Homo sapiens: one gene and its partners. The protein of the gene in region 5 purifies or fractionates together with the protein of the main gene of each other region. This does not show direct contact. Each region holds a gene or a part of one and is shown on either strand. Other genes may lie near its edges. The genes, in order: MIER2, CDYL, ING1, ARID4B, HDAC2, MIDEAS and MIER1.

Evidence for each region.
Region 1: the proteins of HDAC2 (region 5) and MIER2 purify together in Homo sapiens (affinity purification with mass spectrometry; 5 studies listed by BioGRID and IntAct, with this or other methods). This does not show direct contact.
Region 2: the proteins of HDAC2 (region 5) and CDYL purify together in Homo sapiens (affinity purification with mass spectrometry; 6 studies listed by BioGRID and IntAct, with this or other methods). This does not show direct contact.
Region 3: the proteins of HDAC2 (region 5) and ING1 purify together in Homo sapiens (affinity purification with mass spectrometry; 5 studies listed by BioGRID and IntAct, with this or other methods). This does not show direct contact.
Region 4: the proteins of HDAC2 (region 5) and ARID4B purify together in Homo sapiens (affinity purification with mass spectrometry; 4 studies listed by BioGRID and IntAct, with this or other methods). This does not show direct contact.
Region 6: the proteins of HDAC2 (region 5) and MIDEAS purify together in Homo sapiens (affinity purification with mass spectrometry; 5 studies listed by BioGRID and IntAct, with this or other methods). This does not show direct contact.
Region 7: the proteins of HDAC2 (region 5) and MIER1 purify together in Homo sapiens (co-immunoprecipitation; 6 studies listed by BioGRID and IntAct, with this or other methods). This does not show direct contact.

The regions. Positions count from the first base shown.
Region 1 is NC_000019.10:334,797-338,296, forward strand, and holds part of MIER2 (mesoderm induction early response protein 2), read right to left. Parts: intron 1,378-3,500; coding exon 1,287-1,377; intron 1-1,286. UniProt on the Homo sapiens protein: Transcriptional repressor.
Region 2 is NC_000006.12:4,947,404-4,950,903, reverse strand, and holds part of CDYL (chromodomain Y-like protein), read right to left. Parts: intron 1-3,500.
Region 3 is NC_000013.11:110,712,559-110,716,499, reverse strand, and holds the start of ING1 (inhibitor of growth protein 1), read right to left. Parts: upstream 2,801-3,941; 5' UTR 2,351-2,800; coding exon 2,215-2,350; intron 1,489-2,214; exon of another isoform or gene 1,057-1,488; coding exon of another isoform or gene 492-1,056; intron 1-491. UniProt on the Homo sapiens protein: Cooperates with p53/TP53 in the negative regulatory pathway of cell growth by modulating p53-dependent transcriptional activation. Implicated as a tumor suppressor gene.
Region 4 is NC_000001.11:235,318,180-235,321,679, reverse strand, and holds part of ARID4B (AT-rich interactive domain-containing protein 4B), read left to right. Parts: intron 1-3,500. UniProt on the Homo sapiens protein: Acts as a transcriptional repressor. May function in the assembly and/or enzymatic activity of the Sin3A corepressor complex or in mediating interactions between the complex and other regulatory complexes.
Region 5 is NC_000006.12:113,961,149-113,964,648, forward strand, and holds part of HDAC2 (histone deacetylase 2), read right to left. Parts: intron 1,247-3,500; exon of another isoform or gene 1,219-1,246; intron 1-1,218. UniProt on the Homo sapiens protein: Histone deacetylase that catalyzes the deacetylation of lysine residues on the N-terminal part of the core histones (H2A, H2B, H3 and H4).
Region 6 is NC_000014.9:73,736,304-73,739,803, forward strand, and holds part of MIDEAS (mitotic deacetylase-associated SANT domain protein), read right to left. Parts: coding exon 2,257-3,500; intron 1,030-2,256; exon of another isoform or gene 995-1,029; coding exon 695-994; intron 1-694.
Region 7 is NC_000001.11:66,986,555-66,989,119, reverse strand, and holds the end of MIER1 (mesoderm induction early response protein 1), read right to left. Parts: 3' UTR 501-2,565; downstream 1-500. UniProt on the Homo sapiens protein: Transcriptional repressor regulating the expression of a number of genes including SP1 target genes. Probably functions through recruitment of HDAC1 a histone deacetylase involved in chromatin silencing.

The DNA of each region.
Region 1 (3,500 bases), on a different chromosome or scaffold from region 5:
TGAACACAGAGAAGCCTGCGAGGATTTGGGGAGCAAGTGGACTAGAAAGAGACCAACACCCATCTCGTTAGGGTAGAAGGAGCAGCAGGACTCAGTCGAGGTGGGTTCACACCGGACTCCATGACTCCTGAAACGGGGGTGACGCTGAACCCTCACCTGCACAGGTCAGTACAGCATCAAGGAGCATGCAGGGACAAACCAATGGGGGCTCGACAACACCAGTCCCTTAAGCTCCGTCTGCAGGGCCACATGAAGAAGACATGCGATGTACATGGCCCAACAGTTGACGGCTGTCATCAGATCCAGGGTTTCCCCGAAAGAACTGGGATGTGTCACCATTCCTCTGCATGTTTACTCTCCAATTGGTCAAATTTTTAAACAAACAAAGGAAATAGCTAGGGCTCAATCAATCCAGACAGAGAGCAGTGTAGGCCAAGGCTGGGGGCCTGAGGGCCTGGGAGTCCAGGGCACGAGGCCTCTAGGGCAGCCACACAGCCTGTAGGGCTGGGCACACAGGTGTGCACCACACACAGCCCATGCACAGAACATGCAGCTGCAGGGCACAGAGGACCCCCAGCGGCAGGCACCTCGTTAGAGTGAGGGAATGACCTGGAGCTGAATGGGTGCGCCCGGACCCTCAGTGGCCACCGCACCCTTGGAGGAGCCACGTGAGGGAAAACAGGGATGGCACCGCCTTCTCTGGGGACTCGGGTGGTGACTAGTTTGATACGGAAAGAGACGCAGCCCTACACCTGGCAGAAGGAGCCCAGCCAGGGGAAGAACAGTCATAGAGACCCTTGCCCTACAGCGTCAGCTCCTCCCCGCAGGCCCAACGCAGGTGGCTGGCAGGCGGGCATGGGACCTTGATGCCCACTGGGCAAGCAGCAGCGCAGGGAGGTGCAGGGAACCCGGGGTGCTGCCTGTCTCGCCGCCCTCCACCTTCTCAGCCCCGGCTCCCTCAGCAAGCCACCCCTTCCCAACACCCTGGCAAGATGAGGCAGCCCTCAGCTCGGTGCAGGCGTGTGCCCGGGTCCTCTGCTGGGGGTGCTGGGCTCTGAGGATGGTCTTGGGTCGCCTGGGCTCCCTGCCCCTGCTAAAGAACAGGAAGACGGGAGTCCTGACCACTCTGCCCCACAGCTCCATCTGAACGGGTGGGAGCTGGGACACCCTGGACTCTGGAAGCCAGTGTGCCGGTCCACAGCTCAGCCAGGCCCAGCAGGCATTCTGTCTCTCACAGCCACAAAGGCCTTGGCGGACCTGAGCAGGGGAAGGAGGGAGGAAGGTACCTGCTGTTGTCTGCAAGCCCGGCTCCCCTGGGCACAGGCTGTGCTCGAGGCAGGAGACCACGCGAGGACTCTGCCTCCCCAGCGAGGAGGCCTGCGAAGGAAGAGAGGCAGGGTTAGCTCGGCCGGCCCAAAACCTGCTGCTGGACATCACAGTGTGGCAGCCAAGAGCAAGCGCTGGTCAGAGCCCAGTCCCCAGTGACCAGGGAAGGGGCTTTGTCTCCGCCTCTGAGGGCTGGGGGGCACTAGGAGCAGCACACGCATGTGGCCGCCACTCGCCCCGCCTCCCACCAAGGACCGCTCACAGGGTGGAGGCGTTCTCGCCCAGGGCAGGACATGCATCATGTGACACTGAAAACTGCCCACACACAGGCCTACAGTCCTGACCCATGCTGCAACCTGGATGAAGCTCAACAACAGCATGCACTGGGAGGGAAGCCAGACACCAACGGCCACAGCGTAGGGTCCACTGATACCAAACATCCAGAACAGGCCAGTCCACAGACAGAATGGGGGCTCGTGGGGGCCAGGAGCCAGGGAGAGAGACAGTGGGAGAGTGACTGCTAACGGGGACAGGGCTTCTTTTGGGGATGACAGAATGTTTTAGAATCAGATAGAGGTGATGGTTGCATGGTCGTGAATACACTAAAAATCAATGAATTATAAACTTTAAAATGGGCATATTTTATGGTTTGTCAATTACAATTTTTTTTTATAAAAAGGCAAACAAAACCATTATAAGTTACCATTATCACAATGTTCAATATCTCTCTTTTTTTTTGAGACAGAGCCTTGCTCTGTCGCCCAGGCTGGAGTGCAGTGGCGCAATCTTGGCTCACTGCAACCTCTGCCACCCAGGTTCAAGTGATTCTCCTGCCTTAGCCTCCCGAGTAGCTAGGACTACAGGTGCGCACCACCACGCCCAGCTAATTTCTGTATTTTTACTAGAGATGAGGGTTTCACCATGTTGCCCAGGCTGGTCTCAAACTCTTGACCTCAAGTGATCCGCCCGCCTCGGCCTCCCAAAGTGCTGGCATTATGGGTGTGAGCTACCGCAAGCCACGATATCTCTCATGTACATAAACACAAAACCCTCAACAAAATACTAGCAAACTGAATCCAGCAACACATAAAGATGATTATAAGCCACGACCAAGTAAGATTTACCGCAGGGATGCAAGGTCGATTTAATATCCAAAAGTCAATTAATATAATACATCACATCAATAAAATAAAAAAACAAAACACAGGATCATCTCAACATACCCAATCCAACAAAATCCAACATACTTTCATAAGGAAAAATACCCAACAAACTCAGAACAGAAGGGAGCTTCCTTCTTGGAAAAACCCATACTTATCATTGCCCTCAATGGGGAAAGGCTGCTTTCTCCTTCACACCATGAGCACCACAACGTGTACTCTCACCTCTCATGCTAAATGGAGGGCTGGATGGTGTAGTCAGCGTAAAAGCATCAAATAAAAAGAATCAAGATCGGTAAGGAAGCCGGGCACGGTGGCTCACGCCTGTAATCCCAGCACTTTGGGAGGCTCAGGCAGGCGGATCCCTTGAGGTCAGGAGTTCAAGACTAGCCTGGCCAACATGGTGAAACCCTGTCTCTACCAAAAATACAAAAAAATTAGCCAGGCATTGTGGCATGTGCCTGTAATCCCAGCTACTCAGGAGGCTGAGGCAGGAGAATTGCTTGAACCAGGGAGGCGGAGGCTGCAGTGAGCCGAGATCGTGCCACTGCACTCCAGCCTGGGCAACAGAGCAAGACTCCATCTCACAAAAAAAAAAAAAAAAAAAAAGGCTGGGCGCAGTGGCTCACGCCTGTAATCCCAGCACTTTGGGAGGCCGAGGTGGGCAGATCACGAGGTCAGCAGATGGAGATCATCCTGGCCAACAAGGTGAAACCCTGTCTCTACTAAAAATGTAAAAATTAGCTGGGTGTGGTGGCGGGCACCTGTAGTCCCAGTTACTCGGGAGGCTGAGGCAGGAGGATCGCTTGAACCCAGGAGGCAGAGGTTGCAGTGAGCCGAGATCGTGCCACTGCACTCCAGCCTGGCAATACAGCAAGACTCCATCTCAAAAAAAAAAAAAAAAAAAAAAAAAAAAGATTGGTAAGGAAGAAGTAAAACTATCTCTGTGCTGGTGCTGGTGACATGATCTAAAAAACTATTCAAACTACAGTGAGTTCAGCAAGGTTGCAGTAC
Region 2 (3,500 bases), about 110 Mb from region 5:
CTGGAGTGCAGTGGTGCAATATCGGCTCACTGCAAGCTCCGCCTCCCAGGCTCACACCATTCTCCTGCCTCAGCCTCGTGAGTAGCTGGGACTACAGGCGCCCGCCACCACGCCCGGCTAATTTTTTTTTGTATTTTTTGGTAGAGACGGGGTTTCACTGTGTTAGCCAGGATGGTCTCGATCTCCTGACCTCGTGATCCGCCCGCCTGGGCCTCCCAAAGTGCTGGGATTACCAACTTGGAGAAAGTCATGAGTTTTTGAAGAGTCTGGAGAAGTTCTAGAAACCCCTGAACTGACGAGCTTCTTCTCAGTGAAAAGACGGTCCATAAACAGTGGATTTAGAAACGCGACCCGACCTTACTGTGAGTGGTTCTGATAGTCCTTGTCACGGCAGATCCAAACGCAGCAGGAAAGGGAGTGGGACTCCCGGTGTGCTGCTGCCGCACGAAGTGCTCTGTGCTGTCGGGGTTTTCCTTTCATAGACTGTGCTTCTTTCATTCTCAGCATAGAGTGAGGACACTACAGCCACATCCCTGAAGTTGAGCATGAAGTATGTTCTCAGGACCAGCTTAGTGGAGCCTTAGCTTGGGCAGCGGAGGCAAGCGACCCCGCCAGGCCTGGTGTCTGCGGTTCAATCACAAAGGGCAGGTGTCCGCAGGCTTCCTCTCCCGCCCTTCCTGCAGGGCCCTGGCTGTCTGTCCCAGTCAATTCTTCCAACTTTATTTTCTGCCACCTGGAGGTCAACTTACAGCCCCACCACTGTTCTCTTCCCTGTCTCCCTTTCGTCCCCCCTTTGTTGACTCTCTTGGGCCTGATACCAGCCGAGAACGGCCCTTCTCTCTGCTCAGCACTCACTCATTGCGGCCGGTCTTCCTCCACAGCCCCGCCGGCTCCAGGCCTGCTCATCCCTGGAGATCCTTTCCCTACCTTCGGTGTTCTCCATTCCAGGTGGTTGGATGTGCAGGACAAGCAAGGGCATTTCTCAATTTACTCAAGAGCAAAAATGACAGGGCTCACGCTAGGTTGTTAAAGCTTTTTCACTTAAACACGGCCAGTGAGTTGGTTTGAACGACAGTCACCCAAGAAAACAACAACAACAAATCTCCCTTGGTAAGATATGTATTATAGGATTAAATACACGCAATTTGCGTGAGCATATTCTTATATAAACACACTATTTTCAGTAGTTTCAAAATGAGAGGTTTCAAACTTCTACCCAAATAACCGATTCACACAGATGCAGGCGGTGGGAACCTGACCAGCTAGCACGTTGCTCTGAGATGGCTGAGTGCACAGGGACTCCCTGTAGACAACCTACATCACCCCATGATGTGGTCAAAGTTGTCCAACTATTAAAAGAAAGTTATCCTGGAACCATCCAGAGAGATGGGAAATGCCGAGGAAAGTTAAATAGAGATGTCTTTTTAGTTTGGCCAGAGTACAGCAGGACGGGTGGCGAGGAAACTGGCCCAGTATGAGCAGAGGGGATCCAGGAATCTTCAGCCTTATGGGGACTGCTGTGGCAGAGGTTTTACCACCTGCTCCCTCAGGCCAGTCTCTGAAGTCCCCAAGAGAGGGCTCTCAAGGTGTGAGCGTGGGGTAAGGCCCTCAGGTACTCGCTGGGCATTCTCCAGCTTCACACCCCAGCAGGCCCCTGAGAGGTGCAAGATTTCCACGTGGGAGCCTGTGGGCGTCAGACCGTGCCATCCTCCATGCACTCCATGAATGTCTACTGGGCACCAGGAAGGCTAAACTGGAAGAGACTCCTTGGCTGATTTACGTAGCCCTCGCCTACAGCGGAGGGCCTGCTGTAAGAAAGGAGAGGCCACACAGCCTGCACTATTTGCATATTCTTTTTATCTTGATAATGTGATTCCTTTAGCTTATCCTCCTGGCAGAGCTCTGCACATGCAAAGTGGGGAAAACCACACTTGTCCAGTCTTGCCTCAGGCTGCTGAAAGCTCAAGTACACCAAAGGCTCATGAAAGGAACGACATCATTTACATCATCTGCATAGTCACTTTCAACAAGAGTTGTCGAAGTCATCTGAACAACGTTTATTCACTTTCTGTAGAGAGGCTTCGTCAGATACTCTGCTCAGAAAGTGTAGAATTCACGCCGAGTGAAATGCAGGCTCTTCGCTCTTGAGTTAGAGCAGGGTTTCTCCCCCTGGACACTAGGGACATTCTGGGCTGGACTGTTGTTTGGTGTGGGGGCTGTCCTGTGGGGGCTACATGCAGGGTGCTAAGCAGGGCTGTCCCGTGGGCTATGGAGGGTGCCGAGCAGTACCCCAGCCTCTGCTAACGGCCATCTCCTCATGTGTGACAACCAAGTTGTCTCCAGACATTGTTCCCCAGGGGTGAGGTCGGGGGTGAAAACTGCCCAGTTGAAAGCAGCAGCTCAAGAGGCACCAGTACATCTCCAGGGGAAGCGTAAAGTAAAGATCTGCCAAGGCTTGTAGAGTAGGGAGAAACACGGCTGACCAGAGGGCAGGCATTCGTCCTGTGATGACTTCAAGCCTCATGGCCCTTTCTGGGAATGGTGAACTCTGACACCTCTACCCCTGAGCAGCATTCAGCTCCAGGGCTCCACTTCCAAAATGTCTTTGGCCAAAATGTGTCTGAACATCAAGGTGGTTTAGTATTTGCCCCACATCTGCACCGACACCACACATCTACATAGATCATACAGTGGGAGGGGTCAGAACCTCAGATCTCAACCTCCTTTGGATAAATAACTCAAAATGAGATTCACGGGATGTTCCAGAGGATGAGGATTCTTTCCTGCCGGGACAGGGTTAACTGGCAGGACACAGTCTCGTTTACAGTAATCACTACGATGAACTGATTTTACTGATAATGACTCTACCATGGGAGTCTGGTGGTGTCAGGTGCGTGCAGTACGGTGTAAAGGACAAAGCAAATGACTTGGATAAGCCACCCACGTCCCCACCCCAGCAAACTGCCTGCTGTGGGAAGTGCTGTCAGCAGGCAACAGAGAGCTCAGGGCCTCCCCCATGGACCGCTCTTCCCAGGGCCGCCAACCCCACGGCCAACTGCAGTGGGGCACCGGGAACCGCCGTGAGGCCACGTGGTTCCAGAGCTCCCTGTCAGTCAGCTCTGCCCAATCCTGCTTCCTTTCTGCCCTTCCATGGACGCTGGCACCTAATCTACCAGACCCTGCTTCCCAAATCTATCTTAGCTTCCAGAGAAACCACCTTGTGACGAGGGGAGTGGACAGACCGAGGGTGAAGAGAGAGGTTTAGAAACTGCACGGCTCCCCAGCTGGCAATGAGGGACCACCCCCCAACAGGCCAGGTGGAGAAGCCACAGTACCTGGCACAGGCAGCCGTCCACGTGCTAACACTCTCACAGGTGAGGGGCAGGGACATGGGTGCAAGCAGAGGGGCAGCCGGGAGCAAGAGGCAGAGAGGGCTGAGACTTGGCCTTAGCCCCTGGACTTGTCAGCAAGAGTGGACAAGCTCCACCCAGGTTAATCAG
Region 3 (3,941 bases), on a different chromosome or scaffold from region 5:
TACTAAGCAAAAGACGTTTGACTTCCTACAGAGTAGGTCTGTGGAAGTCTTTCAGAACTACGCGGCAGAGCTCAGCATTTACACCGAAGTCCAAGGAGCTGTGACCCTTGCGACAGATTCGCTCGCTTCTCGGCGCTCCCAGCTGCGCCGCTCCAGTACTCCCGGGGGGGCAGGACTGTGATCTTTCCTGAAGCCAAAAAGTTCATCACCCTAGGTGAACATGAAGCAAGCAGCAAGCCAGGCTCTCCCCAGCAACGACAGGAGGACAAAGTGGCTCCATGAACTTTGCTGTCTGGACAGCTGGAACCCTGCACCCCGCCCCGCGCTACTTTTTTCTATCGTCGAACGATCAAAGTGGTCTCAGCCCCTGCCTTCCTTCCGTCCGGAGCCCCAGGGTCACCCCACGGGGCCCGTCCGGCCCGAGGACAGCACCTTCCAGAAAAGTTTCTGCGCCGAGGGTCCCCCTCGTGGACGCAGCCCCAGTCACTCACGTTTCCACGGCCACGCGCGGCCCCACCCTCGGGTCAGCAGAGATGCGGCCTGAAACTGTCTCCGAGCCGGCCCCGCGGGTCGCGGGAGGCGGTCCGAACTGCAGCCCCGGCCCCGAGCCCACAGGCCCGGGATCACTGCTACTGCTATAAATCCGCGCCCGAAAGTGGCCGGGCTGAGCGGGGAGAGGGGCCGGGGCGACACCCGCCAGGCCTCCAGCCAATGGGGAGGAGGCCAGCGGGAGACTCGCCCCGCACCCCGAGAGCCGCCGCCTATGGGAATCGCCGATTTGGAGGGCGGAGGCCAGGAGGAGAACCAACCACACCGCAGGGCGGAAGAGCACGGCCCGCCCCAGCAGCGAGAAGAACCAATCCAAGGCTGGAGGCCGAGCGACCCGAAGACGTTCAAATCAACTCGTCCACCCTCCACCCCGCTCCTCCCCGAAAAAGAAAAAAGAAGACAGCGGAAACACAGACCCATACCAGTTATTGCGCTAGGCCCGCCTTCATCCGCCTCAGCGACCAATCGTTCCGCAGGGGAATGATAAGGACATTCCACGAAGGACATCACAGCCAACTACTGGGGGGCTGAGGCGGGACGTTCCATAATATGCTAATGAAGTTCCTATAAAATTCGCTGCGAAGCTACGTCTCGGATAGAACGCGCAGGGGCGCCTTCCCGGCAGAGGCGTCTAGTACTTTCGGGGATAGCGGTCAATTTTTTTTTTTGCCCCCACCCAACTCTTCCGTTTCCCTACTGCGCAGCCTTGTAAACATTAGTAAACTCCGAGTGGTGATCCACATTCAAAACAGAGCCCCCAAAGCCTTGACTGACCTCGCAGGAAAGTTTCCCCAACAGCCAACAATTCCCGGCGGACACGAACTCGCCACCTCTCTCTGACACCCGGGGCGGCCAGGTCTGCAGAGAACGACGCACAGGTCCTCTCACCTGCCACAGTCCTCTCCAAGCCAGCGATCTGCCCGCGCCCCCCCGAGCGCAGCGCAGATGGGCGCCTTCCCCGCCTCCGCTCCTCCCCTTCCCTTCCCTTCCCTACGGCACACAGAGAAAAGCCCTCGTCCTCCGCAAACTACAACCGGCGGCGTCGCCCCTCGCAGTCGGCCCCTACTCGGTGTCCAGCTCCAAGTGAGGGCCGGAGGGGGCTGGGCGGGGGCGGCCGACCTACCCCGAGCGGAGTACTACCCGGTACTTTATGTAACACTCAGATTCGGGACTGAGTGGGGGGCGACGAAGAAGGGCCAGAGGAACGGCGTTGCCCGGGACCGAGGCACCGGGTCCGCGGGAACCCCGGCCCACAGCCGCCCTCCTCCTGCAGCCCCGTCTCGGCGCCCTATAGCCCCAGGCGCCGGCACATCCCTCCATCTCGCGCCGTAATCTGCACCCCCTCCTAGAGGACGCGGCTTGGACCCGCCGCCCCCTCCCCCGCAGCACCCGCCTCATCACTTCACTACAAAGAGCGCTTTGGTCGCGCAGCCTTGCAGCGAGACCTCTCGCGCCTCCTTCCTCCTCCGTGTCCCGGGCTTTGCACACAAGGACCTTGGCGAATCAAAGGCGCTCCAGACCTTTTGTTCCTGCCCCTGCCGAGGGCCGCCGCTGCGGAGCCGGCCGCTTCCTCCGGTCCACGGCAGGACCGGCCCGGCTCCGCGGCGCGCCCGGACCCGCCGGGAAGGAGGCGGCCGCCCCCGCCCATCCATCACCCGGCCGTACCTTGGTATTTCGCGTCGATCTCCCGCATCAGCGAGACATTTCTCTGCAAGTCGAAAGGCAGGGACTCGATGGAGTCCAGGTAGTCCTCCACATAGTTCACCAGGTGGAGCTGCTCCCCGTTGGCAGGACTCAACATGGTTCACCCCGGAGGTCCCCGGCGACTCGGCGCGGCTTTCCGCTTCCTCCACCCCCCGCCCCCCTCAAAAAATAGCACTGCAAAATGCAAAGCCCTCGCTCTCCCGGCGCCCCCCCGCCGGCTCCTGCTTCGGCCCGGCGGCTACATCTGCCGAGCCCGTCCGCCGCCTCCGGGTCCGCGGGGACCCCAGCGCCTGAGGGCGCGGGCCGCGGTGGCGGTGGCTCCCGGGCGCACGCCCCGGCCGGCGGCGCAGGCCCCCTCTCAGGCGGCGGGGCTGGCGCCGGGGGCCGCGCGTACGAGCGCGCACACACCGGCGGGAGAGGGCCCAGCGCCGCGGCCGCCGCTGCCCACTCGCCCACTGGGCTGGGTAGAAGAGAGGAGCGGAGCGGGCAGCGGGAAGGGGCGCGCTCCGCTGGCCGCCGAGCCGCACTTGTCCAACGTGGAAAACCCAAATACCAGTTTCAAACACTTGGGAAACATTCAGCCCCGCTGCGCAGCGCGCATGCGCCCCGGCCCCCTCCCCCGGCAACGGCCCCGCCCCCCGCCGCATTCACGCCCCTCACCGTCCCAGGCCCTGGGGGCTGCGGGCTCCAGGCCGGCCCTCGCGGGGGCGTGGCCTTGCCTGTCACTTTTTCCAGAGGCGAGGGTCGCGGAGGGGACAGCGTCAGGGCCGCTGGGGTGTGGACGGCGGGCGAGGCGCAAACTTTACTAGGAGTTTTTGGCACTTGGAGGCAGAGCCTGTTGGGCGGCACAGCACGCCCGCTGGGAAACGCAGGGGAGCGGCCTGCTTCGCTGAAAACCCGACCAGGACCTAACGGGCCGCGGGACAGAAACCTCCGAGACCATGGTACACAGCAACTACCGCAACTCGCTCCTCAGCCCCTGACTCTTCGTCCCCGCCCCACAGAGCAGTATAAGTAGGGCCCGAAACAGAACTGGCAACCGCAGTAGCCAATCTACTTGCCAACATCACTTTGACAGCCCAATCACGATGAAGAGGAGGCGGGGAGACCGTGAGTAATGCCCCCCGGACTCTTACTACTAGAAACCCAAGTCCTCCGGGAGGCGGAAGGAAGGGGAGGGCCGGGCACGGGCGGAAGTGGCGGCGCATGCGCACTGGCACCCTCTCGGTGTCCTTTGAGCTGCGGCCGCAGAGTGCGCGGGAGACCTACCCATTCCGCGGCCGGACCACCACTCCCAGCAGCCTAGGCGGCTCCCGCGCCTGCGCCATCCGTCACCGCCCTCCCTTTGTGTCGTCTCCCGGTACTCAGTTTGGAACGGCTTGGAGACAAAGGGGCCTGAGAGGGAAGCTGCTTCCTAGTGCCGAGCCCCAGAAGAGGTGGATAGGCCCGAGGGGCGCCTTCCCTAGGCCTTATCTCTTCCCGCCCTGTGTCATGGACACCGTTCTCGGAGGCCGCTCCCCACACTTGGAAAGGCCGCCCACAGTATGCAGACACCCGGTCGGCCGGCGTCCTGAGGCCATTCAGCTCCCCGGACCGCCCTCCCCCGCGTCGCCCCTCTACCCTCCCAAAGCTCCCGGATTTTGGGCTTTCTGAGAAGCCTGGACGCCACGCGAGCCCGTTGCCTAGGC
Region 4 (3,500 bases), on a different chromosome or scaffold from region 5:
AAAAAATACAAAAAATAGAAATTAGCCAGGCTTGGTAGCGGGCGCCTGTAGGACGCTGAGGCAGGAGAATGGTGCGAACCTGGGAGGCGGAGCTTGCAGTGAGCCGAGATCACGCCACTGCACTCCAGCCTGGGCGACAGAGCAAGAGTCTGTCTTAAAAGAAGTAGAATTCAGGACCTAGTAACTCATCCTGGGGTAGGAAGAAGATGGAGGTTTTTTTCTTAGGAAATTAGATAGATGTTACTGTCATTTGAAGCATGCTGTCATTGGACCTGCTAGTTAAGATGTAAGAGTAAGTAGGTAGGATGAAGTCAGAGGCTTGGTTAATCTGGTGTGAATGTTAACCTCATATCTATGATATTTGAAGGGATTTAAGATCCATAACATGGCAAATTTTGTGCTATAAATTTGTGGTCCTTTAGATGAATAGGTAATCTTGTAAAATACTAACATGTTTTCTGTCCAAATTGCTAAATCTTTGTTTATTGTAATTAAAAAAAATACTAGGTGAGTACCTATGTCACTGAAGAATGTTTTTGCCAAGTCAGCCAGTGAATTCAGTCATTGAACACATTGTGTACTTTCCTTGTACCGGACATTGTTCTGGGTTTTGAGGATGCAGCAGTGAATAGAACAAGAGTTCTTACCCTCGTGGAGTTTACTTTCTACTATGGTGGACACACGTTAAGAAAAAAAATAATGCTAAGTGCTTTGAAGAGAAATGATACGGAATCAGAATAAGAGGTTAGAGTGACAGAGGGTGGGTTACTTTAGATTAGGTGATAATGGAGGGCCTTTTCGAGATGACATTTAAGTGTGCTGTGAAACAAGTGATAGAGTGAGCCATTCAGGTTTCTGGGGGAGGAGCATTCCCTGCAGAAAACAAGTGCAAATACCCTGAGATGGAGTGTGCTTGGCATGTTTGAGTGTGATACATTTAAGGAACATTAAGGCCATCAGGGCTGGAGTGGTAGGAGAGGAGGTCAGAGAGGGTCACAAAGGGCCAGTACAATTGTAGGGCCTTATAGGACATGGTAAGGACTTGAGTAAAATCTGAATGTGTTAGGAACCCTTTGAAGGGTGTTGAGTGAAGTGATGTGATAAACATTTTCAAAAATGTTTGACTGCTGGGTAGTGAACACATCATGGGTTCGAACAGATCATGGGAACACAAGAGTGGAAGTAGGGAGATCAGTCAGAAGGCTGTCAAGCTAGTCCTGGGGAGAGATGGTGGTGAGGAGAAATAGTAGTATTGGGAATATATTTGAAGATGGGGATGATTGGATTTCAATGGATTGGGTGTGAAGGGAAAATTCTACTTACTGCAACTTGCACATGTATGTCCTCCCACAAGTGCCCTCCCTCCTTTTCTTTTGAGACGGAGCCTCTCTCTGTTGCCTAGGCTGGAGTGCAGTGATGTGATCTCGGCTCACTGCAGCCTCTGTCTCCCGAGTTTAAGTAATTCTCTTGCCCCAGACTCCCCTGTAGCTGGGATTACAGGCACCTGCCACCACGCCTGGCTAATTTTTTTTGTATTTTTTGTTTTTTTTTTTTTAGACGGAGTTTCGCTCGTTACCCAGGTTGGAGTGCAATGGCACGATCTCGGCTCACTGCAACCTCTGCCTCCCAGGTTCAAGCGATTCTCCTGCCTCAGCCTCCCAAGTAGCTGGGACTACAGGCATGTGCCACCATGTCTGGCTAATTTTTGTATTTTTAGTAGAGACGGGGTTTCACCATGTTGGCCAGGCTGGTCTCAAACTCCTGACCTTGTTATCCACCTGCCTCGGCCTCCCAGAGTGCTGGGATTACAGGTGTGAGTCACCTCGCCCGGCCTTTTTTTTTGTGTTTTTAGTAGCAATGGGGTTTCACCATGTTGGCCAGGATGGTTCTGAACTCCTGACCTTAAGTGATCCGCCCGCCTTGGCCTCCCAAAGTGTGAGCCACTGCACCTGGCCGTCCTCCCTTTTTTTAAAAAAGTCTTTTTGCTGTGATTAGTTGGTAGATGGGATTCTTGGAACTGAGTATGACCATGAAGGCATTGTCAAATCTTAGCCTTCTCAGTGAGCAGTGAACATTGAGTTGAGCAATCCTTTCACTTGTTTTTTTAATTAAAAAAAATGAGATATAATTCACATACCATAAAATTCACCCTTTTATTTTATTTTTTTTGAGACATGGCCACAGTCTGTTGCCCAGGCAGGAGTGTAGTGGCGCAATCACAGCTCACTGCAGCCTTGATCTTCAGTGGGCTCATGTGATCCTGCTTCAACCTCCCAGGTAGCTGGGACCAGAGGTGCACGGCACCATGCCCAGCTAACTTTTAAATTTTCTGTGGAGGTCTCACTGTGTTGCCCAGGCTGGTCTTGAACTCCTGGGCTCAAATGATCCTCCCATCTTGGCCTACCAAAGTGTTGGGATTACAGGCATGAGCCACCGCGCCTCACCAAATTCACCTTTTTAAAGTGTTCATAAATTTCTAGTATTTTCACAAGTTTGTGCATCCATCACTACTATCTTTTGAAAACTTTTTTGTTAATTTCTTTTGTTTGTTTTTTTAGAGATGAGGTCTTGCTGTGTTACCTAGGCTGGCCTTGAACTCTTGTGGTCAAGTGATCTTTCCCCCTCAACTTCCTGAGTAGCTGAGACTTCAGGCACGTTACTTATCCCTAGCTATCTGTCACTGCTATTTAACTCCAGAACATTTCCAAATTCCCAACAAGAAACTTCTTATCCATTAGCAGTCATTCACTGTTCTCCCTTTCTTTTATCCCTCCAGTAACTAATCTAAATTTTTTTTTTGAGAAGAGTTTTGATTCTGTCACCCAGGCTGGAGTGCAGTGGCTCGACCATGGCTCACTGCAGCATCGACCTCCTGGGTTCAAGCGATCTTCCTGCCTCCAGCTCCCAAGTAGATGGGATTACAGGTGTGCGCCACCATGCCCAGCAAATTTTGGAATTTTTTGTAGTAGTGAAGTCTCACTATGTTCCCTAGCCTGGTCTGGAACTCCTGAGCTCAAGTGATCCTCTTGCATTGGCCCCCAAAGTGCTGGGATTACAAGATTCAGACACTGAGCTTAGCATTTACTTTCTGTCTATAAGGATTTGCGTATTCTGGGCATTTTCTGTTAACGGAATCCTGTAATACATATGTGGCCTTTTTGTGTCTGATTTCTTTTACTTCCCATAAGTGAAAGAAGTAGCAAGTGTTGACCAGGCGCGATGGCTCACGCCTGTAATCCCAGCACTTTGGGAAGCCGATGTGGGTGGATCACGATGTCAGGAGTTCAAGACCAGCCTGGCCAAGATGGTGAAACCCCATCTGTACTAAATAAAAAAATTAGCCGGGTGTGGTGGTGGGCGCCTGTAATCCCAGCTACTCAGGAGGCTGAGGCAGAGAATTGCTTGAACCTGGGAGGCAAAGGTTGCAGTGAGCTGCGATGGCGCCACTGCACTCCAGCCTAGGTGTCAGATCAAGACTCCGTCTCAAAAAAAAAAAAAAA
Region 5 (3,500 bases):
GTCTATCATTTCAACACGGGTTTATATATTACAATAAAAGCTAGAATAAAAAATGCAATTTATCCACTAAATCTTTCAAAGTCCTCCCTAAATACACCTTTTGTTTGTTTAATGGAAACAACCCCAAAAACTTTTTTGTCCTCTCTCCTACATATTTGATAACAGTACGGGATAAACAATCAGCTTTTACAAAATCCATGCTTCTAATAACATAAATACTTGATTTTGTTGGTATCACACCTCTAATTTTAGTTAACTTCATTTTCAGCACAGCTCTCTTCTGAAAACAATTCATATACAAAGTCTTTTAAAGGGAAAGCCACCTTTTTAATGCAGGTGCCAACAAGGCTAAGAAACAATATAGAGTTTAGCAAAGCAGGGCCATGGCCCTTTGCAACATTCCTCTGCAATTATAATTAAGAGGCTATGATTGCAGAAAATAAACTACCTATTAAGAAAGAATCTACCATAAAGCTCTACCTTACATGGTGACAATACAAGGGATATATAGTTCCTTGAAAGCAGCCTGGTCTCATCATTTCTTAGATATGGAAAACCCACTAGTGTTATTACAAAGCATCATGTAATTAAATTAATACAAGGGAAGGCATTTCTTAGTTATCACTACTAAAGAAATCATTAAAGTAAAAATAATGAAAGTCTAGTCTTCACTAGAAATGCAGATTCTATGAGGTTTCGTGGGATGACCCTGCCCATAATAATTTCCAATATCACCTAAAACAGAAAAGACACAAACTAAACAATAACTTCCATCTATCTGCCTCTGTGTAACAATTACCCAAATGAAATGTCTCTAACATCTACCACATCATAACATCAAATACTCTAGTTATTTGATGCACACTGAAAATCCAGTGAAAAGCCCCAGGCCCCAATAATTGGAGACTACAGTAGCAATTTCTGAGCAAGTGTGTTTGAAAAAAAAAAAAAGCAGTAATTAACACTTGTTGAGTGCTTACTAGAAGGCACTATTAAGTACTTCACATATCTTTTAATCTTGTCAATAACCTTATGATGTGGGTATTATTACATTATTCCTATTGTATAATAGTAAAGAAGGATGAGAAACAGACAAGTCAGGTATTATTGCCTAAGTCACATAGCCAGCAAGTGGAGGAGCTAGATTCAAACTCTGGCAGGGCAGCTCACAGCTAATGTTCTTAAGTAATAACAACAGGGAATGTCAAGGACACTTACAGATTCACTAGAAATGGCAGGGTGAAGGCTGAAAAAAAGACATAATATGAAATATAAATATTTTAAATAAAGGCTTAGGGTCTTGGTTAATTTAAAGAAAATGAACACAAGAAACTGTACCTAATATATCAGAGTAATTTACTTTTTACTAATAGGGTCCTCAAATCGTATACGAATACGCATAGCTTTCAACAAGTTTCTCTGTTGAAATTTAGGGACCCCAGTCCCACAAAGAATACACAAAGAACCTAAATGATACATGTATACAGGGCAGCCAAGCTACAGATAATTTTTTGGTTTACCAAGAATTCTTCTAGCTGGGCGTGGAGGCTCACACCCGTAATCCCAGTACTTCGGGAGGCCGAGGCGGGCAGATCACGAAGTCAAGAGATCGAGACCTTCCTGACAAACATTGTGAAACCCCGTCTCTACTAAAAATACAAAAAAAAAAGCCAGGTGTGGTGGCATGCGCCTGTAGTCCCAGCTGCTCAGGAGGCTGAGGCAGGAGAATCACTTGAACCCAGGAGGCGGAGGTTGCAGTGAGCCGAGATCGTGCCACTGCACTCCAGCCTGGGTGACAGAGCGAGACTCTGTATCAAAAAAAAAAAAAAAAAAGAATTCTTCTAAAATATAAAGGCGTTATAAAATAACCATCTCCAACTTTTTCCCACTAATTCTGTATCTCACAATTCTCTAGATGGCTACTTTGTAGGCATCCACTTTGTTTTCTTTTTGAGATGGAGTTTCGCTCTTGTCACCCAGGCTGGAGTGCGGTGATGTGATCTTGGCTCACTGCAACCTCCACCTCTGGGGTTCAAGCAATTCTCCTGCCTCAGCCTCCCAAGTAGCTGGGATTACAAGCGCCCACCACCATACCCGGCTAATTTTTGTATTTTTAGTAGTGACGGGGTATCTCCATATTTGCCAGGCTTGTCTCAAACTCCTGACCTCAGATGATCTGCCCGCCTCAGCCTCCCAAAGTGCTGGGATTACAGATGTGAGCCACTGTGCCCAGCCCACTTTTTCATAAAGTATAAAAAGGCTAAGAAGTTTTAAGACCCTACAATTTTTATTCATCATTTAAATGGTCAGTAATGTATTAATAATTTGGGCATTTTAAATGTTACTGATTTGCATCAAAATACAGATTATCCCTAATCCAAAAATTTGATATCCAAAATGTTCCAAAATCTGAACTGTTTTGAGCACCAACTTAATAGTCAAGGAAATGCTAACTGGAGCATGTCAAATTTTTGATTTTCGAATTAGGGATGCTAACTGGTAAATAATTACAAATATTGCAAAACCTCCCCAAATCTGAAATACTTCTGGTCCCAAGAATTCAGATAAAGGATATTCAACCTGTACATAAAAATACTTTACCAATGAAATAAACATTCAGAAAAATCAGCTCAAGGTGGTTCCTTGAACACAACAAACTTTAATTGTCAATGCAAAGAAATTACTGTAAAGAATTATTTATCTGCAAAATTTTACAAATTGCTCACTCTTCAAGAAACTAACAGAATGGAAGTGTCTACTAAGGTCCACAATCTCTTATCCATATTCCTTCAAATTAGATATGTTTCAAATTTTACACTTTTTCAGATTTTGTAGAGATAATATGGTACACCTGCCATATATTATGTAATAGCCTAGAGTTTGGGTGGCATGATATAATCAAACATTAATATTTCTACAGCAAAAAAGTGTGAATATTCACGGTATTCACAGAGGAATAAAGATCATAAATAGCCTCACATTGATTCAGGTTAAGATTTTGATTCCAAATGAGTTACCAAAATTTTTTTCAATTTTCAGGTCATTTTGGATTTCAGAACTGTGAAATGTACCTTTAGCCACAAAGATAAGTTGACTGCAAAAAGAGACTCAGGAAAAAAAAAACAAGAGAAAAGAAAAAAGTTTATTATTTTCATCTTCCAGACTACTTAGCCCACTATCCATTTTTTATACATATTAACACATCTTTAATACATATTTCAAGGAGGTTATTCCTCCTTGAGACATTCGGAGCCTTGGCTTCCATAATACCATTTTCTTGGGATTTTACTTGTACCCCAAGGCCACTCCTCCACCAACCTTTAAACATCAAGGGTTTTCAGTTCAGCCATTCATTTAATAAATCAAGAGCCTACCATGTGCCAAGCAGGTACTGTTCTAAGGGTTTGGGTTCATCAGTGAACAATAGTTCTGCCCTAAATTCTCTTCTCTCGGGAGTTAAGTCCTGGGACCAGTCGTCTGTCTATGCTGTATCTTTTTCA
Region 6 (3,500 bases), on a different chromosome or scaffold from region 5:
ACCTAAAGAAAAAGTAGGCAAAACCTCAATCTTAGAAGGAGATGTCGGCCAGGCGCGGTGGCTCACACCTGTAATCCCAAAACTCTAGGAGGCTGAGGTGGGCGGATCACGAGGTCAGGAGATCGAGACCATCCTGGCTAACATGGTGAAACCCCATCTCTACTAAAAATACAAAAAATTAGCTGGGCGCGGTGGTGGGCGCCTATAGTCCCAGCTACTCGGGAGGCTGAGGCAGGAGAATGGTGTGAACCCAGGAGGCGGAGGTTGCAGTGAGCCGAGATTGCGCCACTACACTCCAGCCTGGGTGACAGAGCAAGACTCTGCCTCAGAAAAAAAAAAAAAGATGTCAAGATCTCAGTAGTGACAGTACAAGCAAACACCTCTCATTCCCAGCACCCAGCACGGGCCAAATCAGAATTTGCTGATCTGGAAAAAGAGATGTACACAACCTAGAATTCAATTCTAGGCAGTTTCAATTTCAAGTATAAAACTGTCTCATCCCCCATTAGGAGGGGGACATCTCCAAATGCCCCTTCTGGACGTCTGTCCAGAAGTTTGGTTTGGAAAATAAAAATAGTATCTCCACAGGTTCCCTGATACCTTCCTACATTGCCATGTTCTCCTTTCCCCATAGGGTCCTGGGCCCCCTGAGCACTCACGCGCTGGAGGTGTTTAGAAGGGGCGCCTCTCATACCTGAGCTTGAGCATCTGTCCCGGGGATTCGGGTGGACCGCCTGCGGGTGACGATGACTGATGGCTTGTGCTCAGCAGGGTTCTGTTCAGGACCCTTCCCGTCCTCATCAAGACCTCCAGCCTGGGCTGCCTCAGTTGGGTCCACAGTTCGCACAGGCACAGACACTGGGATGATGAGGGGTACCATCCCACTGTCTTCTCGTGCTCGCTTGGTGGCTAAGGAAGGCTCAGAAAACTCCACCCCACACTTGGTAGTTGAGGCCAATACACTTTTCCGCTTCTCTTCAGAACCACTGCCATCCTGGACAAGATGGGAACAGAAGTGCAATTTAAAAGGTAAGTCATAGCCAGGCGCAGTGGCTCACGCCTATAATTCCTGCACTTTGGGAGGACAAGATTAAAGGATCACTTGACGCCACAAGTTCAAGACCAGCCTGGGCAACATAGTGACACCTCGTCTCTACAGAAAATAAAACAAAATTAGCTGGGCATGGTGGCAAACTCCTGTGGTCCCAGCTACTTGGGAGGCAGAGGTGGGAGGATTGCCTGAGCCCAGGAAGTTAAGGCTGCGGTGAGCCGAGATCGAACCACTGCACTCCAGCCTGGGTGACAGAGTGAGACCCTGTCTCAATAATAAATAAATAAACAAATAAAAGATAAATTCTGATTTGATCTAGGACCCTCATTCCCATTTAGTCACGGGACTCAAACACCCACAGTGGCTCCCAGTGGTCTCACAACTTGACCTTTTTCCCTGACTACCTTTTCTCCGACCACTTTTTTTTTTTTTTTTTTTTTTTGGAGACAGGGGGTCTCACTCTGTCACCCAGGTTGTAGTGCAGTGGCACAATCTTGGTTCACTGCAACCTCTGCCTCCCAGGTTCTAATGATTCTCCCACCTCAGCCTCCCCAGTAGCTGGGATTACAGGCGTGCAGTACCACACCTGGCTAATTTTTGTGTTTTTTGGTAGAGATAGGGTTTTGCTGTGTTGGCCAGGCTGGTCTCCCAACTCCTGACCTCAAGTGATCCACCCACCTTGGCCTCCCAAAGTGCTGGGATTATAGGCATAAGCCACTGCGCCTAGCCTCACACTGTTCTCTTCTATAGAAAGTGCTTCTGGCTGGACACGGTGGCTCACGCCTGTAATCCTAGCACTTTGGGGGGCTGAGGCAGGCAGATCACGAGGTCAGGAGTTCGAGACCAGCCTGACCAACATGGTAAAACCCTGTCTCTACTAAAAATACAAAAATTAGCCAGGCATGGTGGCAGGCGCCTGTAATCCCAGCTACTCGGGGAGGCTGAGGCTGGAGAATCACTTGAACCCGGTGATCTGTATCTATCTGTATCTGAAATAGTATCTAATTATTCAAAAAATATTTCTGCAAAAGAAAGTAAGCAAGAACCCTGTGGCAAGGTGAAGGGTGGTCTTTGTACTGTTTTCCCACAGGCAGCTGGCTAGGGCAAAGTCTGGCTTTCCCTAGGCAAGAAGCAAATCCTGCAGCCGCCCACCTATCAGCCTGATGCCCTCTGCCAGGTGTGGCTCCACTGCATGCCACTCTCACCTTTGCATTCTGCAGTGAGGCCAGCTCCACAGCCTTCTGGGCCAGGGTCAGCAAATTGGCCTCCTGGGATGCCCGGCGCCTCCGTCGCGTGCTCTGGATCACTCCGCCCCGTAGCACCTGCCCACAGTCCCCTGTGCTCACTGCCCTCATGCCCTCCTCGCTGCCCATGGCAGGAGCCTCTCGCTCCCGGCCATTGGGTGCTAGTCTCTCCCCATCAGGCAGTAGCTGCGACTCCCTCAGCTCCAGCGGGAATCCCAGAGCTTCAGGATGGGGCTGCCCCAGGGAGCCAGGTGGCGGCTGCTGCAGGGGCCAGTGATGTAGGAACAGGTTGCCAGTGGCCTCCTGCCCAGGCTGGGTGCCAGCCCCATCCAGGGCGCTGGGAGGCAGGATACCCTCCTTAGAGAGGCGGCGGGAGCGGCGGGGGAAGGGGATCTGGACCTGAGGTAGCGCTGGCTGCGGGGCTGAGTCCTGCAGAAGGGCCTTGCGCAGTTCTGGGTTCATATCTGGGTTGGGGGGGAAGGGGTAGGGTGCCATGCTGTGGTGAGCCAGGTGGGACTGTCCCAGTGGCCCAGCTGGCTGCAGGCCAAAGTCCTGGGGTTGCTGCGAGGGTTGCTGCGGCATGGAATAGAAGTTCTCAAAGAGCGGCATCTGGGGTAGGGCTGCCTGCTGCTGCTGCTGCTGCTGCTGTGGTTGCTGCTGCTGCTGCTGCTTCTGTGGAGGGAAGGCAGCCACCGGGTTTGGGGGCGGTGGGCCCTGCCGGAAGACCTGCCGGTTCACCTGGTGGCCGAATGCCAGCTGGAAGGGTTGCAGGGGCAGTGACTGGTTTGGGGGTTTCTTGGCTGCGTGGAAAGAATTCAGGGGTGCCTGGGGCCGCCCTACCTCCAGCTGCACCTTCTGTGGCATCATTGGTCGCACATAGCGGTCCAGCTGTGGGCCCCCCGCTTTCTCCCGCTTCAGTGCCTCAGGGTGGTTATAGTAAGTCGGGACTCCCACTCCAGGATGCGGGCTCCCCTTGGTTGCACTGTAGAGGGACAGACTGTGGCAGTTCCATGTTGAATGGGGTGGAGGCTGGCCTGGCTGCTGCTGCCAGCTGCTGTCACTGACACCCCCACCTCCTCCACGCTCCGGGCCCCGCCCTGGAGCCATCACAGAGTTGGGCCACTTTACTGAGGCCACCTGCTGGGACAGCATGGCTGCTGAGGTCCGCTCAGGCCCATATACCACAGAGTTCAGCAGGGCCAGGC
Region 7 (2,565 bases), on a different chromosome or scaffold from region 5:
GCTCTGCAGGAAATTTTTTTTTTAAAAGACAAAATTTCTTAGGGAAAATCATGCATTTCATGTTGGTTAATTTCCAGCAAATACGAAGTTTGACAAAAGAAAAATATTTAGCTAGACTTACATGGCAAAGAGGAAGGTAAACTCATTTTCTTGAGATCGTGCCTATTCCTCTTTTTGCTGTCTCTGTACTCAGAATACACTTTACTTTTCTACCATTAACACTTTGCTGCCTTCTTGAAGAACAGGGCATGCCGCATCTCTGAAGCCACAAGCCAAGCAAGCATAGTACCTGGTACAAGTATAGGCCGAAATATTTGCTGGATATTAGAGTATATGGAAACATAATGAAAGCTTGTCATCATTGACATTTAAATGTGAAACTGTCACCATCAATTTGGACAATTAGAATCCATCTCATCTCGTTTACATGGCAATTCTTCAATATTCTTCACAGAATAAGTAGCCTTTAAAAGTGTGTTCAAATTACTTCTTACTCAAGAGCAAGCAAAATGACATTTTAATTACATTATACATTCTATAATTCTTTATACTAACTAAAGACAAATTGAAAATAATCATATTCTGAAAAGGAAAAACTCCACGTCCGTATAGTTGGCAAAAGATCAGCACAATACTAAGGGTACATGACAAGAGTTTATGGAAAACTGGTATTAGAAAAGAAAGGTTAATCAGATATTCAGATACATGAAATCAGTCTGTAAGTGGGTGGATGGATGTGTGGAAAACCCTTTAAGATTCTGCAAAGGATGAACTTGATATTAAAGAAGAGAGTTAATTTTTACGGTAAAAAGTTGTATCAGTAGAATTATGTGATACAGAAAAAGTCATTTTGAGAGAAGAGAGTCATTTTTAGAATAAAAGGTTAAAATTTGGAAACTCCTGTTCTTCTGTATGTTACATGGTTTTCCACACTGGCATTTTTCATGAATATGGATTATAGTTGGGAAAACCTTACTATCTGATTTGGTATTTAGTTACACACCCCATGTAAATATTGCCTATTATATTCACCAGCCCTCAGTTATTCCAAGTGCCCACTCCTAATTATCCATCGATAGCAAAGAAAATATTGTGACAAAACAAGTTTTATTTTGCAAAACATAATGTGATATGAACTCCACTACAAAATACGGGAACACATTATTTTTAAATTATATAATCCAGCAGAAGAGAAACAGAGTGAATGGAGGTCTAGGGACTGAAAGGATCTCTTGTGGCAAAGGGGAAGAAGACAAAAATACATCACCCAAGATGTGGTAAAGGGGACCAAGAACCACTGAAAAAGTAGTGCAATATGTCTAGGAATAGAAGAAACAGACTGTGTATATATATATATTTGCCTTGTCAATAACATGCATCATTCAAACAATCTCTAATAAAATCTTAGTGAATTAATCTAATGAAAATATTCACACAGTATTATGTAGGCAAATATGTTTAAAAAAATATTTTAATAAGCATATTCAGAATGGCAGACAAGGAATGGGAGAAGGGAATTATTTTACAGTGCAAAATTACTATGCATAAATTTAACATCTAATTTGAAATTTTAAATGCCTATTTAAATATTACTTCAAATACATTTTAAAGCTCAACAAACTTGTGTTGAACTGAATTGCAGATCCTGAACTCTATTTGAAAATACATCATGAAACAGAAAATACCCATTCCAAATGAAAATGATAGTGCTTTGTTGGGGGTGGGAATGAGGCGGGGAGACTAAATCACTATTAACAGACTTCTTTTTCCAATGCAATTTGTCAAAAGTTCAAAAGTTCTGAAATGTACTAAATCTTAAGCAAATTAAATTCATGATATTACTAAAACTTTTTAAATAGTGCAATGACTTATCAAGTTATAGTGGCTGCATTAAGAACAAATTATTGTGTGAAATACCTGTATAAACACAAAATACAATTAAATATTTCTTTACAAAAAGCTGAGCATTACGCATAATAGTGGAATGTCTTTCATTAGGTGTATTTTTTAAAGATTAACAAAAGTAACATTTCCTAAAATGTATACATGTGCCATATTTTTGCAAACATGCCTGAGAATGTATTTAAAACATTTCTGTAGTAAGAGTTTGCAAGAACTTCACAAACCTGCAAATAAAATGCATCTTTTTAAAAAGGTGAAAATGGCATCTCCAACACTGCAACAATTCAAAAAGTACAGCATCCCTAATCTTTAAAAACATTTCTACAGACCATCTTTGACAAAGAGCTAGGATACTTTGGATTCATTTAATAAAAAATGATTTAGAAAACAGATTGTGACCATCTGCTTGCTAAAGCTACTGCCATTCTGGATAAATTAAAAGTTTTAAGTAAAACAAAAACAACAAAAAACTCATACTTCTCAACACTTCCACCCAAAACTTTGATTTACTTAGATATGTATGTAACAACAGTGAATGTACATTAAGATGAAGTCAAGTGTTGCAAAGTGGCTTTTAACACTGTTTGGGAAAAAAAGTTGTTCACATTGGTGAAGGGAAGCAGTCCGAACATATGTTAACAGTAATACTTCATGGGGGTAAGG